4 linked regions of the Homo sapiens genome follow. The protein of the gene in region 1 binds, or shares a complex with, the protein of each later gene. Each region holds a gene or a part of one and is shown in the gene's direction. Other genes may lie near its edges.

What was found.
Region 2: MAPK14 (region 1) and AKAP13 share a complex: the UniProt entries of both Homo sapiens proteins name them as parts of the signaling complex.
Region 3: MAPK14 (region 1) and NOD2 share a complex: the UniProt entries of both Homo sapiens proteins name them as parts of the signaling complex.
Region 4: MAPK14 (region 1) and MAP3K20 share a complex: the UniProt entries of both Homo sapiens proteins name them as parts of the signaling complex.

The regions. Positions count from the first base shown.
Region 1 is NC_000006.12:36,023,220-36,030,914, forward strand, and holds the start of MAPK14 (mitogen-activated protein kinase 14), read left to right. Parts: upstream 1-4,588; 5' UTR 4,589-4,938; coding exon 4,939-5,054; coding exon of another isoform or gene 5,055-5,280; intron 5,281-5,594; exon of another isoform or gene 5,595-5,691; intron 5,692-5,868; exon of another isoform or gene 5,869-5,941; intron 5,942-7,695. UniProt on the Homo sapiens protein: Serine/threonine kinase which acts as an essential component of the MAP kinase signal transduction pathway.
Region 2 is NC_000015.10:85,572,130-85,579,602, forward strand, and holds part of AKAP13 (A-kinase anchor protein 13), read left to right. Parts: intron 1-3,001; coding exon 3,002-3,200; intron 3,201-6,800; coding exon 6,801-7,473. UniProt on the Homo sapiens protein: Scaffold protein that plays an important role in assembling signaling complexes downstream of several types of G protein-coupled receptors.
Region 3 is NC_000016.10:50,710,560-50,718,032, forward strand, and holds part of NOD2 (nucleotide-binding oligomerization domain-containing protein 2), read left to right. Parts: coding exon 1-1,814; coding exon of another isoform or gene 1,815-1,815; exon of another isoform or gene 1,816-2,078; intron 2,079-2,193; coding exon of another isoform or gene 2,194-2,194; exon of another isoform or gene 2,195-3,030; intron 3,031-4,448; coding exon of another isoform or gene 4,449-4,449; exon of another isoform or gene 4,450-4,922; intron 4,923-5,049; exon of another isoform or gene 5,050-5,196; intron 5,197-6,027; coding exon 6,028-6,111; intron 6,112-6,331; coding exon 6,332-6,415; intron 6,416-7,473. UniProt on the Homo sapiens protein: Pattern recognition receptor (PRR) that detects bacterial peptidoglycan fragments and other danger signals and plays an important role in gastrointestinal immunity.
Region 4 is NC_000002.12:173,260,823-173,268,295, forward strand, and holds the end of MAP3K20 (mitogen-activated protein kinase kinase kinase 20), read left to right. Parts: intron 1-240; coding exon 241-315; intron 316-2,922; coding exon 2,923-3,073; intron 3,074-5,227; coding exon 5,228-5,928; 3' UTR 5,929-7,193; downstream 7,194-7,473. UniProt on the Homo sapiens protein: Stress-activated component of a protein kinase signal transduction cascade that promotes programmed cell death in response to various stress, such as ribosomal stress, osmotic shock and ionizing radiation.

The DNA.
Region 1 (7,695 bases):
TTTACATTATCTGTGTTCAGAGTGCTTTAAAAGTAAAGAATAGGCCAGACATGGCTCAGTGGCTCATGCCTGTAATCCCAGCACTTTGGAAGGCCAAGGCGGTTGGATCAGCTGAGGTCAGGAGTTCAAGACCAGCCTGGCCAACATGGTGAAACCCCGTCTCTAATAAAAATACAAAAATTAGCCGAGCATGATGGCGTGCCTGTAGTCCTGGCTACTCAGGAGGGTGAGGCAGGAGAATCGCTTGAACCTAGGAGGCAGAGGTTGCAGTGAACCGAGATCAAACCACTGCATTCCAGCCTGGGCGACAGAGCAAGACTCTGTCTCAAAAAAAAAAAAAAAAAAAAAAGTCAAGAATAAAAAGTTTAAATACAATCCAATTTTTTAGCTATTGACCCAAATAATATGAAATCTTGAAAGCTAGTTTAGTTGCAGGAATATCTTCCCCCTGATATTGTTAACTTTCTTATGTTTTCTATAATCACGGAAAGGCAAAATTTACTTCCGAATTTTCAAAATAAGCATTTGTAATTCCATCAGAAACAACCCTACACCTGTTACTACCTAGGTTTTTATGGAGAATGTATTGGGAATACAGAAAAGGTATAAGCAAAGAGCCTGGCCTTTAGATCCTTTAGTCACTCTGGCTAGTGGCTAGGGATGACTAGTAAGATGACAGTCCTTAAGCGGATGACCATTGGACACATAAACATAGGACAACCACCTTCCATGCAATGTGGATAGAGTAACATGGTGTGTTGGAGAGATGCTCATTATTGGGGTGGGGGTGCTGGAGAAGGCTTCACGGGGCCCCTGACACATCAACGGCATTTGACATGAAAAGAAAGGGGCAAGGAGGTGGGGGTGGGGATTCAGTCACAGGGAACAAAATTAACAAAAGCAGTGGGGTCTGAAAGGAAGAGGAACGGCCGGGCAGTCAGGCCTCAGGAGGAAATGGATGGGGTAGGCGGTGGGGTGCAGGTAGCACGTCAGTTCTGGGGCTTTTGACAATATAGACAGGAGAATTTGAAAGGATGCAGCTTGCAAAACGCACACACTGTTGTCTCTTGTCATTGCCATCCACACGGCCTTTGAAAGTAGAGACAATACCTCAGAGATAAGCTCCCAGGGACGACCATCATTCATTCATTCCACAGATACTGACTGAGTGCCCACGGCGTGCCTGGCTCTGCGGCATACCTGGGTACCTGCCGGTGACGGACGCAGCCCCCGCCCTGGGACCTGCAGCCCCCGGCGCCCAGGCGTCTCCCAGCAGCGGCTCACCTGGCTCCTTGGCGGGGGCGGGAGTGCGGGCGCTGGGATCCCACACGGCTCTCGCCTGGCTGGCGGCGCTGCGGACGCGGATACCGGCGGCGGTTCCCGAGCCGTTGTGGCCTAGCCCGCGGGCGTTCCGGGCGGGCTGAGGAGATGAGAGTGGGGGAGGGGACGAGGAAGAGGAGCATGAGCAGCTGGGCTAGGGAGCCAGGAAAGTGGTACCTGGGTCGCCCTCCTCATACCTGAGTCGTGGGATCCCCTTGGTATTTGGTAAACCTGTATACCAAGGCTCCTTCTCTCTCCGAGGTTTTGCTATTCTTGATCGAGGGCCTATTTGGTGCCAGGCCTCGTGTCCTGAACATACAGCAGTGCACATGTGTCACATGTGTACTGCACAGACGGTAATTCACTAACGTCTCCGGAAGACTTAAGCCTTCCTCAGGTCAGAAGAGGTAAAAAGAAATGGAGGCTAGGAGGGTCACCCAGGTCTCCAACCATAGGCTGTCTGCCCCACAAACCCGGCTCTCCCCACTGAATGACACCCTCCTGCCCAGATCTGCTCTGGATGCAGACATGCCATCTGCACTCACTCCCTTTACCCTCCTCCCACCCTATCCCTGTCCCTAGCACTGTCTCTCACTCCACCTTGTATTCCTGCTTGGCCCAGTTACAGTTTTACACTTGTTTGTTTGATGACTGTGTTAATGTCTACCTTATAATGCACTTTATGTATTCCTTTTTGTAAATCATCTTACCCCTATGAGGGCAAGGACTTTTATCCCTTTCATTAACTGTTTTATTATCAGTGCCTACAGCAGTGTGGTGGACATAGGAAGTATTCAATTAATTTTTGTTGAATGATTGCCCTCCCATTGATTGTAAGCTCCACACCGGCAGCAACTGTAGTTTTTAATCACTTTTAAACTGCAAGTGTTTGACACCTAGTAGGCATTTAATACACATTGGTTGAATGAGTGTATGAATATACTGCTTACTTTATCTTTACCCTTTCATTCACCCTCACCTCATCATCCCAATTTGTAGGATAAAAATGTGCATTTCTGAGGATTCCTACTTCCAAGCTTCCTCCTCACCCTTTGTAACCATTCCCTCATTCCCTTGATCCCCCCAACCCCATCCCTCATGTCTTCACAATCATGTTTTTGCTCTTACTTCCCCTTCACCCTCCATTACTTCTTAGAAAGCTTCCTATCCTCCCTAGTTTGGAACATTCTCAAGCAACATGTTTTTGTAGATAAGAGAATTCCAGCCTAAGCTACATTGGATCCAAAACAGCTTTCCATGAATCACCCATGACTATCTGTTTTTTGGTTTTATATTGCTTTCCTTGAAGAGGACTGAGGATACTGTACCACTTGAAATCATGGTCACTGTTCATAATTTTTTCAACAAATATTTATGACACATGTTTTATGTTCTAGACATTGTGCTAGATGTTGGGACAAGATATGCAAAGTCTGAGCCCTCCAAGGTGTGTATGACACAAAATAGAATAATCACGGGAAATGTTGAGAAATGTCCTGGCTTGGATCTAGTTATTTCTAATACAAGAAACTAAGAGAATGAGACAGGATCTGATTCTTCTGCTCATTGTAACAAGCTTTAGCATAGGCATAGGTTGATAATGGATGTAGGCATGGGGTTAGAATGCCTTGCCCATTCACATTTATCTTGTTTGGTTTTTACAAATGACTCTGTTAGTCGGGAATGCAGGGCAGGAATTCTCTCGTAGAAGCTGGAACTGAGGTTCAGGAAAGGTCAGTTGACTTGCCTAAATTCGATGAGACTCCTGCCCTATTCTCCTTACTCGAAGAGGCCTGAGTTAAATGCTTAAAATCCTCTTCACTGATGGCTCTTCAGGATAGGAGTCAGTTTCAAATCTTCAGTGTAACGGTTTTTTAAATGCTTCTCAAAGGGAGATATCAGAGACTTTCCTGAATCAGAATCACCTAAGATGTATTATAAAAATGCATGCTCTTGATCAAGACCTCCTCTGACCTACCCAATTAGACTCCCTGTGAGTTCTGGGAACTTGCATCTTAAACTCCCAGGGTGATTTTTCTGCATGTAAGTTTAACTGGGAGAGTTTTAATGTAAAGCTTCGGTTTGTTTTTGTTTTTGTTTTTGTTTTTGAGACGGAGTCTCCCTCTGACGCCAGGCTGGAGTGCAGTGGCGCGATTTTAGCTCACTGCAACCTCCGCCTCCTGGATTCATGCAATTCTCCTGCCTCAGCCTCCCGAGAAGCTGGGACTACAGGGTCGTGCCACCACGCCCAGCTAATTTTTGTATTTTTTTTAGTAGAGACGAGGTTTCACCATGTTGGCCAGGATGGTCTCTATCGCTTGACCTCGTGATCCACCCGCCTCGGCCTCCCAAAGTGCTGGGATAACAGGTGTGAGCCACTGAGCCCAGCCCCTGGAAAGCCTCAGCTTTGATGCAGGGTTAACATTTGCCTTTGGGACATATTTCGTCAGCATCTCAAAGAGTAACCCATATGTCCTTGAGCAGATGGGAATGCAACAGCCTTCTGGCCGGAACCTGTCTCTTTCTTTCTTTCTTTCTTTTGAGACGGAGTTTCGCTCTTGTTGCCCAGGCTGGAGTGTAATGGCACGATCTCGGCTCACCGCAACTCCGCCTCCCGGGTTCAAGCGATTCTCCTGCCTCAGCCTCCCGAATAGCTAAGACTCCAGGTGCGCGCCACTACGCCCGGTTAATTTTGCATTTTTAGTAGAGACGGGGTTTCTCCATGTTGGTCAGGCTGGTCTCGAACTCCCGACCTCAGGTGATCCGCCCGCCTCGGCCTCCCAAAGTGCTGGGATTACAGGCGTGAGCCACCACGCCCGGCCACTTGTCTCTTTTTTATGCAAGTGTTTTTTGGAATTTGGGGGTTCAGGTGAGCAGGTGCTCTGCTGCTGGTAACTACTCGCAGTTAAAGATCTTTTGACTCTTTCCCCGACACGCTATTTGTCAGTGTCGTTTTCCACCACAGAGCCAGGTATTTGCCCCGCCGGCCACGGTGAGGCGCGCGAGGCGTGTGCTGCCAGCTTCTCTCTTCCTTCCCCGGTCCGCCTTCGCGCCCTTAAGGAGACAGTCCCTGGGAGTTTCTGCCTTTGGTCTCCAGTTATTGTTCTCTTCTCGCGAGAACTGCTCCTCCCATCCTCTTCTCTCACGAAGCCCCGCCCGCGGAGAGGTTCCATATTGGGTAAAATCTCGGCTCTCGGAGAGTCCCGGGAGCTGTTCTCGCGAGAGTACTGCGGGAGGCTCCCGTTTGCTGGCTCTTGGAACCGCGACCACTGGAGCCTTAGCGGGCGCAGCAGCTGGAACGGGAGTACTGCGACGCAGCCCGGAGTCGGCCTTGTAGGGGCGAAGGTGCAGGGAGATCGCGGCGGGCGCAGTCTTGAGCGCCGGAGCGCGTCCCTGCCCTTAGCGGGGCTTGCCCCAGTCGCAGGGGCACATCCAGCCGCTGCGGCTGACAGCAGCCGCGCGCGCGGGAGTCTGCGGGGTCGCGGCAGCCGCACCTGCGCGGGCGACCAGCGCAAGGTCCCCGCCCGGCTGGGCGGGCAGCAAGGGCCGGGGAGAGGGTGCGGGTGCAGGCGGGGGCCCCACAGGGCCACCTTCTTGCCCGGCGGCTGCCGCTGGAAAATGTCTCAGGAGAGGCCCACGTTCTACCGGCAGGAGCTGAACAAGACAATCTGGGAGGTGCCCGAGCGTTACCAGAACCTGTCTCCAGTGGGCTCTGGCGCCTATGGCTCTGTGTGGTGAGTGTCGCTGGGCCTGGGGCCGCTGTGGGCAGGGTGGCCCCTCGCGCCCGAGGGCCAGGCCTGCTCCACTGCTCAGCGTTGCGTCAAGTGGCAGGAATTTTCCTCGGGGGAGGGCATTGCTGCCCCTTCGAGCTCTGCCCGTTCTGCACCTCCAGCACCCCTCGCCCTGCACTCACGCAGGTATGCGGTCCACCGTGTGCAGCACTCAGGTCCGCTGCGAGAGGTAGGTGGTGGTGCTGGAGCTCGGTTCTGGCTAGCACCCTGCGCCTTCCCCTCTCGGAGGGTTGCTGCTCGGCAACAGGCACCGGGGGAAGGGCCGCTTCCTTGGGGGTCTCCCTGCCTACCTGGAGCAGAAGGACCCTCTCCCGTGATGCGCCCACGCTGGGGCTCCGGACCCTGGGTCCTCTGAGCAGACAAGCTCGGGGAACTGCCGGGAGAAGCAGAAGGGCACAGCCCAACCCGAAGACTGCGGTCATCTGAACAAAACTGACCAGGAAGGGAGCTCTCTCCGGGCCTTTTTTTTTTTTTTTTTTTTTCAAAACTCTGTCGAAATCCCATCTTGAAAAGCGTTCTTTTTGAATTCGCACTTGAATTAACAGCGATCCATAGAGCTTAAAATACCGACTTTATCTCGGTGAGCACTGTGCCAGCTTGAGTGGTGTGTTTCCGATTCGGTTGAAAGCGTATTTCCTTTCCGTGGAGGGGCGGCGGTGGTAGTGCCTGCAAGAACACTGCAGCTTGAGAAACTGGCAGGCTCACTGATTAGTCACATACCACTGCTCATTTAAGTATTGTTCGACAAAACAATTTTCTCATTTGGAGCAAGAAAGATTCAGATCTGTAAGGCGCCCTCAAGATCAAAAAGTTATTAACAGTGCTGGGAGGTATTGTAAATATTTTTTGAGATAATTCCTGCGAATACTGTGTTTTAAAAGTCCCTTAGAGAGCTTGCAGGGAGTTATCTAGTTATCTGCATTTATGGCCTGAGGTACACGATGGTTTTCGTAAGGATATGGAACCACATAGAAAAGGAAGGGAAGAGATACTTTTTAGCTTTAATTTACACCGTGAGTGTGTTTTAAATTAAGTCGATAGCATATAATTTCCAGACCTGAAATATTTCACTAACTGCTCTCTTAACTTCCAAGGTTTTATACCCTGTATTTTAGATTTTCTATAATTTGAAAGCTACGGATCTTAAACTAAGTATCAGATTTAACTGTTAGCTTTTTCTGTGTTTTAGTAATTCGTATTGTATGCGTCATTTGAAAACGGGCCTGTAAAATCGTTTTTTTGTTTTGGAACAAATTCCAGGCTTTTGGATGTGTTAATCTTTAAATATGATTTCTGTGTTTCCCAAAGTCACATCATGAATTTCCTGTTTGGTAGAATCTTCTGGGTAATTGAGATTGTGCAATTGTGTCCAGCAACAGATCATATTGCATTTTCTAGTTCAAGTTGCTTAAGTTATGTTGCAGATAGCACCGTGCTTGACATCTTTCTCCCATTTTTACAGCATGGCAGTTTACATTTTAAAGGAATTTGCAGCATTTTACATTCAGAGAGTGTGTGTGTGTAGTTGGTTTGCAGCATTTTACATTCAGTATATACATATTATATAGGTATATACATTCAGTATATACATATTATATAGGTATATACATTCAGTATATACATATTATATATATCTAGTTGATTTGCTAATTTTCAAAGACGTATTTGGATCATTGCTCTTTTAATATTTTATAGCTCATTAATATACTTCCATTTTTTCATTCTTGAATTGACATACATTTCTGTAGTATCACGTTTTCGTTTTCAATGCTATTTAAATTTTAATGGAGTGATACAGCAGAATAACTCAACTATAGAGGGTTTGGGTGAACTCCAATTGAATTGCTTGCAAGGGTTCGCTACTATTGGTGACTAGCTCTGCACTGGAACAGGAGATTCAGATTTACAGTGAAGTACCATTAAAATTAACTCCACAGTTCTTTAGTGGTATACTTTTCTGTGGTATAGAAGCCAGCAGTATCTGACACTTAAAAGTACTTTTATTTTATTGAACAGATTTTTTAAAATACATTGACATTGTATAAAATTTGAAAGTTTTACAAAGGTACTCAGTGGGCCGGGTGCAGTGGCTCACGCCTGTAATCCCAGCACTTTGGGAGGCCGAGGCGGGTGGATCACAGCGTCAGGAGATCGAGACCATCCTGGCTAACACGGTGAAACCCCGTCTCTACTAAAAATACAAAAAATTAGCCGCCCGTGGTGGCGGGCGCCTGTACTCCCAGCTACTCAGGAGGCTGAGGCAGGAGGATGATTTGAACCCGGGAGGCGGAGGTTGCAATGAGCTGAGATCGCTCCACTGCACTCCAGCCTGGGCGAAAGTGCGAGACGCCGTCTCAAAAAAAAAAAAAAAAAAGATATTCAGTGAAAAGTCTCCTTTCCTTTTTGTTCTCCAGCCACTCTACTCTCTCAAAGACAGGCACTGTTAAGTGTCTTGTGTCTTTCCAGAGAGGCAGTTTTTTTTATTTGCTTGTTTGTTTAGTAGTCTTTCTACTAAAGGGATTTAAGATGTAACCTACAGCATATTGGTGAAAGAAAATACAACTGAAACTGAAATTGTATGACA
Region 2 (7,473 bases), on another chromosome or scaffold:
CATGGAGAATGGACTGTATCACTTTTTAATTGCTCCTGCCTTGGCAAACAGTGTCCTCTAATCTTGTTATATTTGGGTCATGCTCAGTGGTGGTATATAAAGCAGGTTTTGTTTTCAGAGATCTTTTTTGTTGGAATATGGCTGTATGTGATAATCTGATTAAGCAGATATGCCACTAATGTCTGCCACACAATAAGGCATGTTAGTGACTATGTCAATGTAGGCTTGAAAGCTACATTGATAGAGAAGTTGTCTCCCCGCTATTTGACTTCTTGAGTCGTTTCTTTGAACTGTCGAGAGTATTTTACAAGTGCTTTTCTGTTTGAGGTCATTTCACTCAGAGTATAGCAACTTAGTAAAATATGTAAAACATGTAGTATAGCATATGCCATTCTTATTTTAAGCTGCTTTTGGGGAGCCACTCTTGGGTATGGAAGTTGTAATAGTAGTTTTTGGAGTACACTTTATTATTATTACCGTCAGCCAGTACATGATTTTCCATTGCCTTATACGTTTTCCACTGTAGCATTAAAAAAAAAATTTTTTTTTTATTATTACACTGTAAGTTCTGGGATGCATGTGTAGAACGTGCAGGTTTATTACATAGGTATACACGTGCCGTGGAGGTTTGCTGCACCCATCAACCCATCATCTACGTTAGGTATTTCTGCTAATGCTCTCCCTCCCCTAGCCCCCAACCACCTGACCGACCCCGGTGTGTGATGTTCCCCTTCCTGTGTCCATGTGTTCTTATTGTTCAACTCCCACTTATGAGTGAAAACATGTGGTGTTTGGTTTTCTGTTCCTGTGTTAGTTTGCTGAGAACGATGGTTTCTAGCTTCATCCATTTCTCTACAAAGGACATGAACTCATCCTTTTTTATGGCTGCTACTGTAGCATATTTTTAGCTTTAAAATTCCAATTAGTCTCAGGTGAATTGTTAATGACAGACAGGTGTGACTTAGTAGAAAAAACTGGAGAGACAGTTGAAGTAATCTTTCTCATATTTTTCAGTGGCTAGATAGCATGTCTGTAATTTCTTAACTCTTTAGTTTCTTCTATTTCAAAACATGATAATGATCTCAAATATAACCTTCCTCCCAAAATCTCAGGGATACTTTACCAATCTATTGTTTGCTTTGGTGGGATTATAATAACTGTGATATAGGTTGGGAGGCCAAGGTGGGTGGATCACCTGAGGTCAGGAGTTCGAGATCAGCCTGGCCAATGTGGCAAAACCCCTGTCTCTACTAAAAATACAAAAAAATTAGCTGGGCGTGGTGGGACGCGCCTGTAATCACAGCTACTCAGGAGGCTGAGGCAGGAGAATCGATGAACCTGGGAGTTAGAGGTTGCATTGAGCCAAGATCGCACCACCGCACTCCAGCCTTGGCGACAGAGCGGGACTCTGTCTCAAAAATAAATAAATAAATAAATAAATAAATATGATATGATATGGGATATTCAAAGGTGTTAATGTTGTAAGGAAAGGAAAAATAACATTTCATATAAGGAGGAAAGGGTTGATGGAAAGCATAATCTATTATTGTGCCTGATCTTTGAGCTGCTAGGCACCTTATCAGAATGCTGTTTGAGGAGTGTTTTCATTATGTTTAAAGCTTTCAGAGAAAGTAGGATTTTCTGATACAAGTAGAAAAATAGAAAAAAGTAGATATGTTTTTCTACTTTTAAGAAGGGAAGGCTTACTAGGAATTATTTTTAAATGAATGAAAGAGTAGAAGGAGGAAGAATAGGCAGTATCCGTGTGTGATTTCTCTGTGTCAAACACCATAGATGTAGTTTTTTATGCACATTTTCTCTAATTCTCAAAACAGTGCTTAGATTATAATATCTGTGTTTGCATATTATGAAATTAAGGCTCAGAAAAGTTAAGAAATTTGTCTAGCATCATATAGTTAGGAGATAAAATTTTGTACCCAGAAATCTCTAACTCTGTATACCACACTGTGTATCAAACTAATGAGAAAGAATAGTGACACCAACGGTTAGGACTTCAGACATTTACATTTGTGCTGAATGTAGAAGAGGGTGCTTAACACTTGAAATGCGTGCTCAAGTACAATAGTTAATAATATGAGATTGTGTGGGGTATGATTGTGTGCCTCATCCCTGTTTATTGTATGCCCCAAGATTCTTTCATCTGCTGCAAAAAAGCACAGTGCAGATTATGTGTGGTATCACAGCAGGCATTACGGGCATGGGTATGCCTTCTGGATGCAAGGGTGGAATTGGAGGTGCTGTAGCCTTTAGAGGAGAAACCCACTTGCCTTGTTCAAATCAGTTGGCGTATAATGGTGGAAAGTTGTTATATTTGTTTATAATGATATGAGTTGAGCAAACTTGCTTGTTTTTTAAATTTTACGAATTTTAACTTTAAGTTCTTGGAACCAAGTGCTTTATTCCAAATAGGATATGATAATTATATTGACAAGTGTTGAACAATATGTCATTGTAACAGTTTTTCTTTGTGTAATTGACTTCAATAATCTTGAGGGTGTTTTCTGCACCTATTGTTAGAAAAGTTGGAGTGCCCTTGTAAGGGTTGGAGTGAGTGGTTCTTCTCTTGCCATTATAATTGACTGTAGTTAGCATATGGTCTAATTTATTTTAAGAGCACCTCTTAATAAGCCTTGATTTTGTTGAAAATCAGGCTAAAACCATCTTCCTTGCACTTCCTCATTACTTGGTTGTTAGCATAATATTAACTATTATTAGATCCCACATATCTCTTTATCTTGATCTAAAGAACATTGTTAGGGCTAGGAGTCCTGCAGTTTTCATTTAACCCATTTGTGATCTCTTGTGAGGAGGATGGAGCTATTGGTTATATGCCTGAATCATTTGGGAGGTATATATACTAATTTTTGCTGTTGAACCTCAAAGAACAATCAGGTTAGAAATACGAAGTAAGACTTAGAACGTTAAGCCTATGCCTGGGAGGCAGAATGTATATATATTAACCAGAGATGCTTGCATGTAGGGAGAATGCTGGAGAACCAGACTCCTGGAGCAGTTTATCCTATGAAATACCGTATGGAGACTGTTCTGTGAGGCATCATCGAGAGTTGGACATCTATACATTAACCTCTGAGTCTGATTCACATCATGAACACCCATTTCCTGGAGACGGTTGCACTGGACCAATTTTTAAACTTATGAACATCCAACAGCAACTAATGGTAAGTCAGAAAGCTTTTATTTTTAAGTATATGCATGTGTATGTGTGTGTTTTGTATGTGTGTGTCCCCGCCCTCCTCCAATGAACCTTGATATAATTAGAACATAAAAATGCTTTCCTGGTGGGAGGCTGAGACGGGCGGATCACGAGGTCAGGAGATGGAGACCATCCTGGCTAACACGGTGAAACCCTGTCTCTACTAAAAATACAAAAAATTGGCCGGCCTGGTGGCGGGCGCCTGTAGTCCCAGCTACTCGGAAGGCTGAGGCAGGAGAATGGCGTGAACCCAGGAGGCGGAGCTTGCAGTGAGCCGAGATCACGCCATTGCACTCTAGCCTGGGCAACAGAGCGAGACTCCGTCTCAAAAAAAAAAAAACTTTCCTGGCCAGGCACAGTGGCTCATGCCTGTAATCCCAGCACTTTGGAAGGGCCAACACAGGTGGATCACTTGAGCTCAGGAGTTTGAGACCAGCCTGGGCAACATGGAGAAACTCTGGCTCTACAGAAGTTAGCTGGGCATGGTGGCGTACGCCTATAGTCCCAGCTACTTGGGGGTCTGAGGCAGGCAGATCATGTGAGCCTGGGAGGCAGAGGTTGCAGTGAGCTGAGATGACACCACTGCACTCCTGCCGGGGTGACAGAGCAAGACCTTGTCTCAAAAACAGAAAAAGAAGGACTTTCCCCAAAGATTCTGAGACCTGTAAAGCAGTATTAGCAGTATTAAATGTTACCACTTACAGATCAGAGCTAGCATTAAGGTTGTAGCCGTAGGGGGACTGAGAGGTTTTTTTCATTGGTTTTGGGAATAATGGAAGACACACATTTCAGGTACAGAAATATGCAACAACTAGAACTAAATTTCTGGCATAAAAGGATATTTGTCTGTGTTTGGCTTAACTTTACAAAATGAAAGAACCAACAGTTTCTGAGATTGTTGCCAAAGAACAAGAACCAAATTTAATCAGGAGTATTTTTACAACTATTTTAGTGGCGATGATATGTACCATTTAAATATAGTGTTACTATATTTAAATCAATAGTTGTATGGTACAAAGATAGCTAAAAAAAACAGAAAAGATTTTATAATCCACTCAAGTCTTCAAGATAAAGTTGTTGCCAGACATAAAAACATTACAGACTCCCTGTTAGCATTTATTACGAATAACATAAACGTCATATGTGTACATCTCTCTTGGGCATAACATCTGAAAGGCTGTGTTTAGGTAATTTTTCCACCCAGTTTATTTCAGAGCTGATTTGATTTGGAAACCACTGGACAGTAATTTCATTTAAGGTCAGCTCAATGCCAGAGGCTTCTTTGGGAGCATGCATTATTTGAGACCAGCAAGCCAAGAAATTCCATAGGGTTATGTGATGCTCCCACTTTTGTGTTTTAGAATTGTGTTTGTTCCAGAGCACGTGACATTTCATTTTCCTCTGAATGGACTTCTAGGCAATCAGGTTTTTCCTTAGAGCTCTTTTTACTAGGTGAATGGTAGTTCACTTGAAAATATAGTTTTGCAGGTACCAAAGCTACCTGCCAAGATATGGAAATGGTTGGCAGGCAAATACGAGAAATTAAAACTGTGGGAACATACATGTGCTACTTTCTTTAGGCAACACTACTTGTTTCGCCAGATTTCTGTTTTATAATGTTTACCATTTATTAAATTTAATGACTTCATTTCCTGATTTTTAGGAGACTGTCGTACTCTCAGCAGGACTGGAAATAAGCTAATTTTGAATACTCTTAAGGAGCCTAACACAGAAGCTTTTAGTGAAAGTCCATTTTGCTTGTACACTCTACTAGAAAGACTTTAACAAGCATGACACATTTTACACTTGTACATATAAACTTTTACAATAGGCTCAGTAGGTAGATAGGAATGGTCTGATGATGGAACCCTGTAAGTGCCCAATATATTCACTGAGTGAGTAGGTGAATGAGAGGATGGATGGCAGTAGGTATGCATATTATTGCAGTAGATCAGGTAATGAATGAATGGCGAGCAAACCAGATGTTTGGAAAAATAGATTTTAGGTGTTGAGAAAATATTTTTATAAGAATTTTTGAAATTTTGATATAAAGGTAAAATCACTAAAGATCACCTGTATTTGTTTTTCTCCATTTTAAACCTTGCTGCATGCACATGGGATTTTTGCATATTTATAAACTTAGATTAATAATTTTTTTCTAATTGCAATATGGTCCTCATAGTTAATAATGGCTAGTATTTCTTCCATCAGTTTTATGAACCTTGATTTTCTTAATCATTCCCATGCTGTTGGTTATATCTGTTTATATTTTTTAAATACTTTAAAGTTGCAAAATCCATTTTTGAGATTACATATAGTATCCATAATATACTCTGACAGTATATAGGTATATGTTCTCATTTATTTTATATTTAATATGTTCTGATTTTATCAAAAGGTGAAAGAATATCTGCCATGCCACTGTTCCTGAAATTATGACCCCATAACTCGATGGTTAAGTTAGATTGGTTGGAACATATTTTGGGGATTAAAGGACACTGAACTCAGTAAGTATTTAGGGCACAGGCACATTGGCTGCACCTTGTAATGGAAAAGAGCTAGGATTTGTTTTTACTTGTATATATGAGGCAGGGTGTAAGTAGACTCTGCCCTTCTGAAGACAATGAAAAATATAGGTGGGACACAGTGGTGTAGGCCCTATAATCCCAGCACTTTGGGAGACCAAGGTAGGAGGATCCCATAGGCTCAGGTGTTGGAGAACAGCCTGGGCAACATAGTGAGACCCCGTCTCTACAAAAAATAAAACAATTAGTCAGGTGCAATGGTGCACACCTGTAGTCCTAGCTACTGAAGAGGCTGAGGCGGCAGGGTCACTTGAGCCCAGGAGTTCAAGGCTGCGGTGAGCTGTGATCACACCACTGCACTTCAGCCTGGCCTCAGAATGAGAGAGCCCACCTTAATGTTAGCAGCTCAATTGAAGATATTCACTGAGCTTTTTAAAAATCAGGTTTTTGAGACTCTTTTATTTTTATTTTTTTTAAGACGGAGTTTTGCTCTTATTGCCCAGGCTGGAGTGCAGTGGTGCTGTCTCGGCTCACTGCAACCTCCGCCTCCCGGGTACAAGCAATTCTCCTGCCTCAGCCTCCCAAGTAGCTGAGATTACAGGCATGCACCACTACGCCCAGCTAATTTTGTATTTTTAGTAGAGACAGGGTTTCTCCATGTTGAGGCTGGTCTCGAACTCCTGACCTCAGGTGATCTGCCTGCCTCAGCCTCCCAAAGTGCTGGGATTACAGGCATGAGCCACCATGCCCGGCGAGACTCAGTTTTCATCTACTTCCTAAAATAAGTTCAAAATTTAGAAAATAGATATTTCATATATCCTAATCTATTTTGAACATCCCAGTATATAGGCAGATATGAAAGGAAAGTAATATCAGAAATAAGAGGAAATTTATTTGTATTCTTTTAGATTCGCTTATCATGTGACCTTAGAAGAGCTAGAATAGAAGTGAGTTCTGTCCAACAGAATTTTTGCTCAGAGGTGTCAGTGACATCTTCTCCTACAGGCAGTTTTTTAAAAGTGTATTTCATTTCCTCCTAGAAAACAAACCTCAAGCAGATGGACAGTCTTATGCCCTTAATGATGACAGCACAGGATCCTTCCAGTGCCCCAGAGACAGATGGCCAGTTTCTTCCCTGTGCACCGGAGCCCACGGACCCTCAGCGACTTTCTTCTTCTGAAGAGACTGAGAGCACTCAGTGCTGCCCAGGGAGCCCTGTTGCACAGACTGAAAGTCCCTGTGATTTGTCAAGCATAGTTGAGGAGGAGAATACAGACCGTTCCTGTAGGAAGAAAAATAAAGGCGTGGAAAGAAAAGGGGAAGAGGTGGAGCCAGCACCTATTGTGGACTCTGGAACTGTATCTGATCAAGACAGCTGCCTTCAGAGCTTGCCTGATTGTGGAGTAAAGGGCACGGAAGGCCTTTCGTCCTGTGGAAACAGAAATGAAGAAACTGGAACAAAATCTTCTGGAATGCCCACAGACCAGGAGTCCCTGAGCAGTGGAGATGCTGTGCTTCAGAGAGACTTGGTCATGGAGCCAGGCACAGCCCAGTATTCCTCTGGAGGTGAACTGGGAGGCATTTCAACAACAAATGTCAGTACCCCAGACACTGCAGGGGAAATGGAACATGGGCTCATGAACCCAGATGCCACTGTTTGGAAGAATGTGCTTCAGGGAGGGGAAAGTACAAAGGAAAGATTTGAGAACTCTA
Region 3 (7,473 bases), on another chromosome or scaffold:
GCCACATGCAAGAAGTATATGGCCAAGCTGAGGACCACGGTGTCTGCTCAGTCTCGCTTCCTCAGTACCTATGATGGAGCAGAGACGCTCTGCCTGGAGGACATATACACAGAGAATGTCCTGGAGGTCTGGGCAGATGTGGGCATGGCTGGACCCCCGCAGAAGAGCCCAGCCACCCTGGGCCTGGAGGAGCTCTTCAGCACCCCTGGCCACCTCAATGACGATGCGGACACTGTGCTGGTGGTGGGTGAGGCGGGCAGTGGCAAGAGCACGCTCCTGCAGCGGCTGCACTTGCTGTGGGCTGCAGGGCAAGACTTCCAGGAATTTCTCTTTGTCTTCCCATTCAGCTGCCGGCAGCTGCAGTGCATGGCCAAACCACTCTCTGTGCGGACTCTACTCTTTGAGCACTGCTGTTGGCCTGATGTTGGTCAAGAAGACATCTTCCAGTTACTCCTTGACCACCCTGACCGTGTCCTGTTAACCTTTGATGGCTTTGACGAGTTCAAGTTCAGGTTCACGGATCGTGAACGCCACTGCTCCCCGACCGACCCCACCTCTGTCCAGACCCTGCTCTTCAACCTTCTGCAGGGCAACCTGCTGAAGAATGCCCGCAAGGTGGTGACCAGCCGTCCGGCCGCTGTGTCGGCGTTCCTCAGGAAGTACATCCGCACCGAGTTCAACCTCAAGGGCTTCTCTGAACAGGGCATCGAGCTGTACCTGAGGAAGCGCCATCATGAGCCCGGGGTGGCGGACCGCCTCATCCGCCTGCTCCAAGAGACCTCAGCCCTGCACGGTTTGTGCCACCTGCCTGTCTTCTCATGGATGGTGTCCAAATGCCACCAGGAACTGTTGCTGCAGGAGGGGGGGTCCCCAAAGACCACTACAGATATGTACCTGCTGATTCTGCAGCATTTTCTGCTGCATGCCACCCCCCCAGACTCAGCTTCCCAAGGTCTGGGACCCAGTCTTCTTCGGGGCCGCCTCCCCACCCTCCTGCACCTGGGCAGACTGGCTCTGTGGGGCCTGGGCATGTGCTGCTACGTGTTCTCAGCCCAGCAGCTCCAGGCAGCACAGGTCAGCCCTGATGACATTTCTCTTGGCTTCCTGGTGCGTGCCAAAGGTGTCGTGCCAGGGAGTACGGCGCCCCTGGAATTCCTTCACATCACTTTCCAGTGCTTCTTTGCCGCGTTCTACCTGGCACTCAGTGCTGATGTGCCACCAGCTTTGCTCAGACACCTCTTCAATTGTGGCAGGCCAGGCAACTCACCAATGGCCAGGCTCCTGCCCACGATGTGCATCCAGGCCTCGGAGGGAAAGGACAGCAGCGTGGCAGCTTTGCTGCAGAAGGCCGAGCCGCACAACCTTCAGATCACAGCAGCCTTCCTGGCAGGGCTGTTGTCCCGGGAGCACTGGGGCCTGCTGGCTGAGTGCCAGACATCTGAGAAGGCCCTGCTCCGGCGCCAGGCCTGTGCCCGCTGGTGTCTGGCCCGCAGCCTCCGCAAGCACTTCCACTCCATCCCGCCAGCTGCACCGGGTGAGGCCAAGAGCGTGCATGCCATGCCCGGGTTCATCTGGCTCATCCGGAGCCTGTACGAGATGCAGGAGGAGCGGCTGGCTCGGAAGGCTGCACGTGGCCTGAATGTTGGGCACCTCAAGTTGACATTTTGCAGTGTGGGCCCCACTGAGTGTGCTGCCCTGGCCTTTGTGCTGCAGCACCTCCGGCGGCCCGTGGCCCTGCAGCTGGACTACAACTCTGTGGGTGACATTGGCGTGGAGCAGCTGCTGCCTTGCCTTGGTGTCTGCAAGGCTCTGTAGTGAGTGTTACTGGGCATTGCTGTTCAGGTATGGGGGAGCACCATCAAGGCTAAGTGTGGGAGCACCGAGCTGGGCTCTAGAAGTCTGGGCCCAGCTTCGCCTCTGCCACCCTGCTTTGCAACACTGCCCAGATCCCTTCCCTTCTGGGCCTTAATTTCAATATGTGATGATGACAGCCACACTTTATTGACTGGCCTATGTGCTGGGTCTGGTGCTATGCTTTCCGGAATGACCTCATCTAATCTCTACAACCACCCTGGCGGGTAGGCAGGAATGTTATTATCTCCATTATCCTTGACTTGAGGCTCAGAGAAGTGAAGTAACTTGTCCAGGAAATGGCAGAGCTGGGGTTCACAAATTGCATCATTCTGATTACAGGTTTTCTGCCTCCCACCAGTCTATGGATACACTTCAGAGGCTCCCTGAAAACCTTGAGGTCACTTGCAGAAAGTTTTGTGTAGTATGTGTCCGTATCAGGAACAACACCAAATCAGAGGTGACTTGTGCCCCATCAGAGACTTTAACACCCCAACCAGATGGGAATTTCAGGACCCAAGAAATAGAAAGTGGCTGCAGGGTTACAACTACTGTTGGATTCCTGAGGTAGCACAGTGTCCAAACAGGATTTCAGCACTACCCGTATTGCTTAGAGCCCCAGCCAAAGATGTGAGGTTTTGCCCTTTGGAGAATCTGTGCCCCTGAACTCGGGGGCCTCTTTCCACATCTTGGGGGCAGGCAAGGGCAGAGGGTGTGCCTAGGCCTGCGGATCAGCATGCGACAGATTCCCCAACATCCTTCCAGCTTGAAAGGGGATTGCCCTGCTTCTATTTAGAACCTATAGGAAAGCAGAAGTTCTAGATTGAAGTTAAAATTGATTCCCAGCCTCCAGGGGCTTTGGGCTACACCTGGATGACCTTAATTGACCCTAAGCATGGGACAAACCACTTCCTGAGAGTATTAGGATGGTATACATCTTCTCTGGGGGCAAAGCAACAAGATTTATTTTTCATCATGGACCAAACACATGGATACCCACTAGAAACTGTGTAGTGAATTTTGTTAACCCTGACATAGGGACCATGGTCTTTAGGTTAAAGCATAATAACAACATAATACATAACATATATAGCGAATATATATATGTATTATATGCAATGAATGTAAATATGATTATACCCATCATGGTCTTGGAGGAAACAGATGACACACTTAAAATGGGTGTTTTGAGGAGAGTTTGAAAAACAGATTGTTTACAAGCCATGGGCAGGAGTTAGGAAGAGTGAGAGGGTTGGTGCAGGGGCCTGGGGTTAGTAACAGCTGGGGGAGGGTAGACTTGAAGGGGGAAGGGGAGGGAGACTAATTAGCTGGGGGGAAGGTATGGAGACGGCTGCCTGAGCTTCTGCAAAGTGGAAGAATACCGCTTGGCCCTAACTCCTCACCCCAACTCTTGCTCCTGGCCAGCGCCTTCCACCAGCTGGACCCATCAGGGAGGCCGAGTGGGCTGTCTGCTGGAGTAGTCCCCAGGCATCAGCCTCCCAGGAGCCAGGGACGGGTAGAGAAGGGGGAGAGTGGATCTGGCCAGGCAAATGGAAAACAGCCAGCACCAAACTCTATTTCCCTAGGAGGGAGGATCATGATACTTTGAGTGGGAATTTGGAAACCTGTCTGTTGGAGCAATTTCCCTGATAGAAATAAGAATGTGCATTTTCCTGGGTAGTAGACTCAGTTTTTACCCCAAGAGGCCAGGCATCACTGGCCTGTGTGATCCTCATAGGCCAGTCCATCTCTGGAATTCTTGAATGGATCATCCATCCTTGATTAGGGATGTCCCCGTGATTACCAGGGTGTGCAGAAGGGCTCTGGGAAACCTGTGGGTCTGTCTCTGTGTTCAGAGAAAGGTGAGGGTGGCCTGGTTCTAGCTCATGGTGCTCAGACTGTGGTGTGTAAAGGCACTCGTGGCAATGCAGATTCCTGGGCCTGCCTCTAGTGATTCCCATTCAGTAGGTTTGGGGTGGGGCCCAGGAAATCTATATTTTTCACAGACACCCCTGGTGATTCTGATACAAGTGGTCTCGCCCTGGGAGAACTACTGGTCTGCAGCAACCAGCTTGGTTTTCCATTAGCAATTACTGTCCTTGAGCGAGTTTTACTGCTCTTCACCTTACACACACTAAAACTGCCAAGGCCGTAGGGGAGGGGAAGCAACCATGAGGTTGCTGTGAGTGCACTGTGTGTGTGTGTGTGTGTGTGTGTGTGTGTGTGTGTGTGTATGAGAGAGAGAGAGAGATTGAGAAAGAGAGGAAGGGAGGAAGGGGGAGGGCACAGGCTCCTCTCCCACAGTGCCAACCTGCCTCTCTCCCACTTGAAGTGTTTCCATGCCAACTGAAATCCTCAGCCTCTAGGAAACCCTATATACACAGTGCCCCTATATAGGTTTCTTTAGACTCTGGCTCTCTCAGACTCTAGAGTGATGGCTTTAAAAGTTTTTTGAATGTTACCCACAATGATTGAGAAAGAGAGAGAGAGAGCACGCACCACCATGTAAACATGGAACCTAAGTTTCACAAAATGACTTCGCTTTATGAACTCTGAGACACTCTGCTCTCTTCTGTTCTGTTCTATTTCCATTTTAGAAATGCTGCTCAGGACCTTCAAAATGATTTGCATGACCTGCAACCTGCAGTCTGAAAAATCACTGCACTACAGAAGTGGCCATAAGAGGCCCTGAGGGAGAAGCTGCACAATGTCATGGTTAAGAGTGGGGTTTGGAGCCAAGCCGCCTAGGCTCAAAGCCTTTATGTGCCGTACAACCTTGGCAAAGTCACTTCGCTTGTCTGTGCCTCAGTTTCTTTCTCACGAATGCTCATAATAATGGTTCCCATTTCACTGGCTTGTTGTGAGGATGAAATAGTGTTATTATTGAGAAGTGGTAAGGGTAGTGATCAGTGCTAGCGATCATGATTCTAGGTGACTTTTACTGTGTACCGGGTGCTCACAAGGCTTTATGTGCACAGCCTGGTGAGGCTGATAATACTATTGTTCCCTCTTTTTTTTTTTTTGAGACGGAGTCTCGTTCTGTTGCCCAGGCAGGGGGTACAGTGGCACAATCTCGGCTCATGCAAGCTCTGCCTCCCGGGTTCACGCCATTCTCCTGCCTCAGCCTCCCAAGTAGCTGGGACTACAGGCGCCTGCCACCACGCCCGGCTAATTTTTTTGTATTTTTGGTAGCGACAGGGTTTCACTGTGTTAACCAGGATGGTCTCGATCTCCTGACCTCGTGATCCGCCCGCCTCGGCCTCCCAAAGTGCTGGGATTACAGGCGTGAGCCACCGTGCCCGGCCTGTTCCCTCTTTTATAGATGAAGAGACCAGCAAATAACTAGTAAGTCGCTGATCAGGATCACAATATCCAGCTGAGGCACTCCAGAGCCTGAGCTGTTAACCATTCAGTCAGGGCCTCCCAAGTTTGCCTAAAGATAAAGAATCATGTGCACAGTTGTTAAAATATACAGATTCCTGGGCCCCACCCCGCAGATACTTGATTGCCAGCTCCAGGGTATGGGCCTGAGAATCTGTCTTTTAGGGAAGCTTTCAGATGATGTTGTGATCAGGTGAGTTTTGGGAATGGTGCCCCAAGAGGAGTGGCAGACAGGGCTTGCTCGGCAGGGACTAGCCTGTTGGAGTGGTGCCATTGGGGTTAAGGACTGGGCAGCAGGGCCTCACTAACCACAGCCTATATGCCTGTTTCTGAAGTTTTGGCCACTCTCATCCAGCTGGTCTACTGTCTGCTGACCTAGATGATGGTAAATTGTCCCCAGGGGTAGCCTGTCTAGTTCAGGCTGCACCTTTCGCATATATCAGCTCCTTTCCACCATCATCCCCTTTGTGAGGCTGCTGTGATTATCATGTTCCTTTTGCAGAGATGGAAACATTGCCTCAAATTAGCTCTGTCATTTCCTAAGGATTCCAGGGTTCTTTAGTAGGGGGTCTGGATCCTACGTCCTGGGCCATCCCCATCATAGTGCACCACGTCACCTCCCTGGCCAGGGACCGTGGGGTCTCCACTTTTTTGGGGTGCTCCATCTATGCAGGGTTTCCTGGAAGCACAGATGCTGGCACTTCAGGGATGAATGAAAGTCTTTTTGGGGGATTTGTAGATTTTTTTCTTGTCTTACTAGCTCCATTTTCAAATGTATTTATTTTGTCTCTTTAGTTTGCGCGATAACAATATCTCAGACCGAGGCATCTGCAAGCTCATTGAATGTGCTCTTCACTGCGAGCAATTGCAGAAGTTAGCGTAAGTCAGCCTGGGCTGTGGACAATGGGCTCCAAGTGCCCTGGTCTCACCCCAGGTCGTGCAGCCTGGGAAGCTGTGAGTGATGGGCTGGGGCAGGGGCTGTTTGCATGATGGGGGGTGCAGGTGATTCCTGCCCAGAGGGGAAGGGCAACCCTGGGATTTGGTGCTCACTGTCCAATGTGCTTTGCTTCTGTGTCTCCTCTCTTCTGGAACTGAACAGTCTATTCAACAACAAATTGACTGACGGCTGTGCACACTCCATGGCTAAGCTCCTTGCATGCAGGCAGAACTTCTTGGCATTGAGGTGAGCCCAGGTTTTCCTTATTCCCTGGAAACTATTTTTTGCCCCATTCCTGAGTCAGTCTGATCTGGTCTTGGCCTGGCACTGCCCACACTGGCTCCTGACCTCCTGATTGAATGCAGGGACAGTGTCTCATTTTAAGCAGGGGTTCTCTAATGCTGTGATCTCCCCAGTAAACTCTGGACTAGCTCTGCTGAGGACTTCCTGTCTTTTGACCTTTAGCCCGTAGGGCAAGAAAGCTTTTCTAGGCCCCTTTCCTTTTCTGTGTCTAAGAGTGTCACAGCTTTCTGGGTTTACTGAGTTCCACGATGCATGTTGAGCTCGTCCTGGTGGGGGAGGCATACACAGTTACTTGCCACCCCAGCTGTGGCAGCGAGTTGCTGCAACACTCCCAGGAGGTCCTTTCACCACTCAGAGCATGCAAGGTTTGCAGTCCATCTGGTTCTGCATTTCTGCTACTCCAGTGTCTCCCAGTTTCAACAGGAGTCTCTCTCTCTCCTACCTGATGCCTTTAAATTGCCCCTCTAGCTGGCCGCTGGGTTGGCCTGGCTTCTCTCTCCTTCTCTCTCTCTCAGATATTCTTGCCTCCTGTGATTTGTGAGGCAGTAAAAAAAGACAAAGTAAAGAATTGCTTCCATCTATTCTTTTACCTCTTGGGCTGGGTTTGTGGATGGGAGCCGCCATTTTAAAATGGCGGGCCACATAGCTCAGTCTCGGCAAGGGCTACTGAGATCAGAACCACAGGTGCCAATTTGTACAAAGGACTCAGTCCTGCTACCACTGCCTGATCCCTCAGACTCACAAGCCTGGAATAGGCTGTGGCCAGACCTGGCTGGCCCATCCCTGAGAAGGGTGCTAGTTTCAGAAATGGAGGCTGAGTTTGTGGCCAACACAGTAGTCCTCCGGTATGTGCAGGAGAGATGTTCTAAGACCCCAGTGGATGCCTGAAACCATGGAGAGTATCAAGCCCTACACATACCATGCTTTTCCCAATACCTACACACCTGCAATAAAGTGTAGTTTATAAATTAGGCACAGTAAGAGAGTAATAGCAACTCATA
Region 4 (7,473 bases), on another chromosome or scaffold:
AGATTGTGGGAGGCCATGACTAGCTGTTTACAAATATACAAAAGGATGTCTTATGAAAAGCAAAACTTCAAACATTAGCATGTTGTGAGTGATCACATGAGAACCAACAAGGCTTTCATGATAATCTGATATTATGCCCCTATTTGCTAATTGTGTATGGCACAACCGGCCTCAAAGAAACATACTATAGTAGAGCAGACTGTGTTATGGTACTACACCATCCTAACTTTTGTTTTTCAGCCACCATTTGTAATGGAGAAGTGGATTGTAGGAATAGCAAAAAGTCAGACTGTGGAGTGCACTGTCACATATGAGGTAAGCTCTGGGGGCAAGAGGCTGGTGGCCTCACCATCAGTTAATGAATATAAATTTATCTGTTATCTCAGAGCATATAATTTATTGGGAGATATACCCAGAGCATATAATTTATTGGGAGTAAACCAACCAACATGAACATAGGAAGATCAATATAATTTCTCTCACAACGTGTTGGGAAGAAAAGAGAACAGGATAAACTTACCCAGATAGCGACTGAGGTAGTACTTCAGTCATTCATTAGTTATGGATTGAACACCTTCTGTATACCATGTAAGATGTTTGGTATTGGGGATACTAATAGTTAATACTAATTTTTTTTAAATCAACAAGATCTTCATGGCTGGTAGGACATACACCTTACAAGGTACGTAGACCCGGTGGGAGTGGGTGGAAGGCAACAGTTATAGTACAGTCTTGGCACACCTGGAAATATTAGTGTGCACCCACCATCAAAGGGACATGCATTTCATTCATTCATCAATTCATTCATTCAAGAAACATTTATTAAGGATCTACCATGAACCAGGCACTATTAGAGGTGCTTACACCAGTTTGATCACACTAACTTCATGTAAATCAATACTGAAAAATATCGTCCAGGCGCAGTGGCTCACACCTGTAATCTCAGTACTTTGGGAGGCTGAGGTGGGCAGATCACTTGAGCCCAAGAGTTTGAGACCAGCCTGGGCAGCATTATGAAACCCTATCTCTACAAAAAATACAAAAAGTAGCCAGGTGTGGTGGCACATGACTATGGTCCCAGCTACTCGGGAGGTTGAAGTCGGGGGATTGCTTGAGCCCAGGAGGTTGAGGCTGCAGTGAGCCGAGATCACACCACTGCACTCCAGCCTGGGTGAGACAGTGAGACCCCTGTCTCCAGAAAAAAAAAAAAATACTGAAAGATATTATTATCCTCATTTTGCAGATAGGAAGAATAGGCTCAGAGAGATGAAAGGAAGTCTTGAGGTGTGAGGTCCTCACTGACAGAATTGTTGAAGTCAATTCCATGTTTTCTGACTATAAAAAACACTTTCTGCGCTTCCCTGGCTACCCTGTTAGCTCCCAGTGGCTGCAGTAAGATGAAGTCCACCTCAAAGAGGACTCTGTGAGTGTGGCATTTTGATGGTTTCCTGGGCTGCCAGGATTTGGCTTTTCAATATTAGAAATACAAACCCTGGGCCAGGCACGGTGGCTCAAGCCTGTAACCCCAGCACTTTGGGAGGCCAAGGCGGGTGGATCACCTGAGGTCAGGAGTTCGAGACTAGCCTGGCCAACATGGTAAAACGTCATCTCTACTAATAATACAAAAATTAGCTGGGCATGGTGGTGCATGCCTGTAATCCCAGCTACTCAGGAGGCTGAGGCAGGAGAATCGCTTGAACCCTGGATGCAGAAGTTGTGGTGAGCTGAGATTGCGCCATTGCACTCCAGCCCAGGAGACAAGAGCAAAACTGTCTCAAAAAAGAAAAAAAAAAAGAAAAGCAAAGCAATACAAACTCTGGCCAGTCCACTTATCCAGGCTGGAAGCCAAAAAGTTTTACAGCAGTTATTTATCCTCACCTGCTGGGGTGCACAGGTTGTCAGGGATGAGGCATCTGAGAAGTTATATTACTTGTCAAAGCATTGCTTGCAAGGTGCAAAACCCAAACAAAAGAGGCTGGTTGGTCTTGAGGAACTTGGAAACTAGACTACTCTACAGCCTGTTAACTGGTCCTCACTACCCAGGAAAAGCCCTCTTGTTAGTAATCGGACAATTAGAACAACCAGATTCTACCTCTGCCTGCCTTAGACAGTTTTGGAGACAGCACACCCAGTTCTCTTTTTCTTCTTCTCTCTCCCTCCTCCTCCTTTTTCAGACCCCATGATGATATGCCACTTTTGTCTGGGTTTTTCACTTCAGAGTTTTTTAAAACAGATTTCCCTAACCATATTGAATCCTGGAGACTCTTTAATTGACACTGATTGGTGACAGCTAGTGAGGAGGGAGATTTCAGAACAAGAAAGTAATGTGTCTTGACCTAGTGTCCTCTCCTTTTCCTGGTCCCCATTTCTTACTTCTTGATCCTGTCTCACTTTTGCATCTGAGACCCTTTCCCCTCCGTGCAGGTAATTCACCCCACCACCTTCACTCAGTTTCCTTGATGATCCAAATTCAGTCTTAGGCAAACATGGTGGTCAGATTTTCATTTATTCAACAAAATAGCTGTCATCAAGTACTATAAATAGAAGATGTAATTTTTTATTTCTTATTAAACAAAGAGGTAAGTTGAGATTTGTCAAATATAATAAATTCTGGGAAAAGACAACCATATTTTTTAGCTACTATAGTTTACTAAGAAATTTATGTTATAATCCATTAAGGAATAAGTGCTATAACCCACTAAGAAATAAAGTGGTTAAAATTTTTCTTTTCATTGAATTAGCATATTTGGGCCAACTGTTCAGAATATTTTCCTAGTGCATTATGATAGTGTTCTAAGAGGTGAAACTGAAGTGATATAATAACCTGGATGACTTTCTTTCCCATTTTATATATGTGTGTCTATTTGGTCATATGTTTCTATTTGTCTTTTTTTTGTCTTTTTCGTTTGTTTGTTTTACCAGAGTGATGTTAGAACTCCAAAAAGCACTAAACATGTCCATTCGATTCAGTGGAGTAGAACAAAACCTCAGGATGAAGTGAAAGCAGTCCAACTTGCCATTCAGACATTATTCACCAATTCAGATGGCAACCCTGGAAGCAGGTCCGACTCAAGTAAGTTAGTGTTCCCGTATTAGATGTGTGCTAGATTCCAGAAACTTAATTATGACATTTCCAGATGATCTAAAGACTCAGAGGATACCACCTCAATCAGTTAAGATCTATCTTTGAGCTTCGAGTAGCAGAAAACCCAGTTGCAACTGGCTTACTCCAATAATTCCCCAAGTGTGGCCCCAGGACCAGGAGCATCGGGATCACCTGTGAACTTGCTAGAAATCCAGATGCTCAGGCCCAAACCCAGACTTACTGAATCAGAACTCTGGGGATAGGAGCTGCAGTCTGCATTTTAAGGAGCCTTCCCAGTGATTAAGAACAACTCTAAAGTCCTTAAGCCACTGATTTAAACTGTAATAAAATTTATTATCTTCCATAACAAGAAGCCCAGAGGTAGGGCAGGCTCCAGGTGCAGTAAGATAAGCTGGCTCAACCATATTCAGAGAGTGGAATGAACCTTCCCTTCTTTCTGCCCTGCCATGCTCAATAGGCTGCCTTTGCCCTCGGCTCCTCTCCTGTTTACAGTCATCACACAAAGATATCACAACGCCCAGAGGAAATAACGGGTTAGGTCCCTACCTGTTCTTATATATAGGAGTAAGGAAAACTTTTCTAGAAACCCCCAACAGACTACCCGTCAGCAATTCTGCTTTGGCCAGAATGGAGCAACCTGTCCGTTCCTAAACATAGCATGAGCACATCTGACTTAAACTAATTAAAGTCGATCCCTGGAGCCAGAATGCAGTCAACTCTCCCGATCACGTGGCTACATGGAGGGGGATGGAGACTGAGCAAAATCAGGGTTCTATTGGAAGGCAAAATTCCAGAGAAGTCAAGGCGAGGAAAGAAGGCATTGTGATTCTGTATGCTACTGCTCATGTGACGTATGTAAAGTAGTCAAAGTCACAGAAACAGGAAGTAGAAGACAGTTAACAAGTGGCGGTCAGGGGGCAGGGGAGAAGGGAGGGGAAATGGAGAAAGAGGAAGGTAGAGATTAGTGGGTATAGAGTTTCAGTGTTGCAAGATGAAACAGTTACAGAGATCCGCGCAACAATGTGAATATACTAACACTACTGAACTAGAGGCTTAAAAATGGCTAAGATGGAAAATGTGGTTTTTACCACAATAAAATACACACATACACACAACAACAACAACAGAAGAAGGCATTGTGATGGACTGAAGCCTGGGAGGAGTCTCTGGAATTGTCTGGACAAGTCACTCACTTCAGAGCTCGGGGTCACCTGTGCCCAGGCAGTGAGGAGACAGAGACATGTGCATGCTCTGATACTCTCCACGCGCACTATCTGCGTGAGCAGGGGGTGGAGTAGCTGAGGAAGCTGAGGCTGGGAGGACCACCCAGGAACTCTAGAACATGGGTAACGTTGTTCAGGCTCGGGGGAAAACAGAAAAGATCTCAGGTGTGAGGAACTTGCTTATTCACTGAAATATAGCTTACTAAATGGTTCTTGTTAATTCACCATTTTCTTTTATCTTAACTTCTTCCTATCTGCCAATGCAGCTTCATTTTTTTATGCTGAAAATACTTCTTATTCCCGAGCCTCAGGATCTCTCCTGTGGACACGTGAACGGTCTTTCTTCCAAACAATCTCTAGCTGTCTCAACCTTCGGAACCTCATTTCTCTTATCTGCATTTAGGGTCCTTGAGGTTTTAAAAATGCAGGTGGCAAAACAAACCTTTTGTTTACTAAACATGCCCCTGCCACCTGAACATACTTTCTAGAAGTAACAACACAACTATGTAGGAAGAAGATGGGATTTAGATGCAGAAGGACTTGGTATTATTGACTGAGTGATCTTGGGCAAGTCATTTGACCTCTCAAGCTTCCTCATTTATAGAATAAAACTATTAGTGTTTACCTAAGAAGATTACTGAGAGGATTAAATGAGATAGTGTAAGTAAAGCCCATGGAACAATGCCAAGCACATAGCATATATTGAATAAGTGTAAATGTCCTTATTTTTTAAAGTATTTGTAATAAAAGAAACGTCCTTATACATAGCCTAGAATTTCTATGAATGGTAAAGCTTAGAGCATCCCAAACAGCCCTGAATTATCCTAAGACAGGCGTATGAATTAGACATGCAGCTTTAGTGTGGCTTAAAAGATGCTCATTTCCATTTCTCCCGCAGGTGCTGATTGCCAGTGGTTAGATACTCTGAGGATGCGGCAGATTGCATCCAACACTTCTTTACAGCGTTCCCAGAGCAATCCTATTCTGGGGTCACCGTTCTTCTCACACTTTGATGGCCAGGATTCCTACGCTGCTGCTGTGAGACGGCCCCAGGTGCCCATTAAGTATCAACAGATTACACCTGTGAACCAGTCCAGAAGCTCGTCTCCTACTCAGTATGGACTGACCAAAAACTTCTCTTCCCTACATCTCAACTCTAGGGACAGTGGCTTTTCCAGTGGCAATACTGACACCTCTTCAGAGAGGGGTCGATACTCAGACAGAAGCAGGAACAAATATGGACGTGGTAGTATATCACTCAATTCTTCTCCTAGAGGAAGATACAGTGGAAAGAGTCAGCATTCCACTCCTTCAAGAGGAAGATACCCTGGAAAGTTCTACAGGGTTTCTCAGTCAGCACTCAATCCTCACCAGTCGCCTGACTTCAAGAGAAGCCCCAGGGACCTCCACCAACCCAACACCATACCAGGGATGCCTTTGCACCCTGAGACTGACTCAAGAGCCAGTGAAGAGGACAGCAAAGTCAGCGAAGGGGGCTGGACAAAAGTGGAATACCGGAAAAAGCCCCACAGGCCATCTCCCGCCAAAACCAATAAAGAGAGAGCCAGAGGGGACCACCGTGGATGGAGAAACTTTTGATGAATTGAACTACATAGCTTTTCTAAGCAGGTTAAAAAAAAAAAAAAAAAGAAATGTAATGGTTTTTGATAATATGATCCCTTCAGATTGAATTAACGAAAAGACAACACTTCCAGTTTTTGGATTGGGAAATACCTTCTAATTGAGACTATAGCCAAACCAGGGCCAAAATTATGGATATTGGTCACCCAGTGATCATAACTAGGCTTGAAAATCACTACACATATTTTCTGCCTTGAGTGAACATTTTTAGAGGAAAGGTTATGCCATCTTTTTACCCTAACCACTGATATTCTGGTTAGCAGGGCCAGGACAAGGGGAAGGAAAATGAGGTCAACAAAAAAATCAAATTTTTAGGAAAAGATAAGATGAATGTTACTGATTTTTCCTTTTGGCTGAGGCTGCAATATGGCCTGGCAAGGCACTGTTACTGATCTTGTCTTTAACATTTTGATATTTTGTTCATCATAATTTTTGCATTTATTTTTTTAAATATTGCATTAAAATATCATTTAGCTTGATTATCGAGTTTTTTGGTTTGAGGTTTTTTGTTGCTTCTTTTTTCTTTTCTTTCTTTCCCCCTCTTTTTTTTGGATGTCCCCTTAAATTTTGTGCCCAAGGCAGGTACCTCACTCATCTCATCCTTGGCTCAGCCCTGCTGGTTAGTATTTAGTATTTATTTTAGTAAGATATTTGTGTCTGTATGATGGTCAGAGTTGAACTGATCTGGCTTGTCATTTTTCAGTAATAAAAAAAGTTACTGAATTTAATGTTGAATATGATGCATATCTCATTCATTACGATTTATCAGAAACCAAAGATTTAAATTGCCTAGATTTGTGGTTCTTTCTCTTCCTAAGTTCCCAGCGACTGCTTTCAAATACTATTTTCTAAATTTCACCAAAGGAGCAAAGAGGATAAAACAACACTCCATAAAGGCCTCTTGGGATGTCAGAAATCTAAAATCTAAAAGAAAACAGACACAGAGCAAGACAATAACATCACAAGCTAAAAGCCAGAGAAATTTAAAATTACCAACATCCTTGTTGGAGTAAGACAGTAAATATCAGCCTTGCAGCAAGACAGCTCTGAGCAGCTGTGGGCAAAGAGGTAAACCAGTGGGGGTGCAAGGAGACTGTCTGCAGCTTAGGGCAGAAATGGTGGGATCCAACTTGTGAAATGCTTCATGTTTTACAAACCAAAAAGTCAGGTAGCAACAAACTTATTGTATGTCAAATCAATAAATGTTACTTTCAATATTCTGAGATTCTGTTCAGCATTCACTAACCCTGTTTAGCATTCACTAAGCCCTACATAGGATTCTCAGTGCTCTGTAGAAATCCAGAGGACACTCTTCTAATTCTGTGGGTTTGAATTCTTTTTTAAAAGAAGCTGGTCATCAGAGTACATGCATTTGTTCTCAGGGTAGCTCCCCTGCTGTGTGTGATACATTACTTGAGGCCTGGTGGGGAAAACTGTATTTCGGTAGCATTAAAGTCAACGTGGGTGGGGCATGGTGGCTCACGCCTGTAATCCCAACACTTT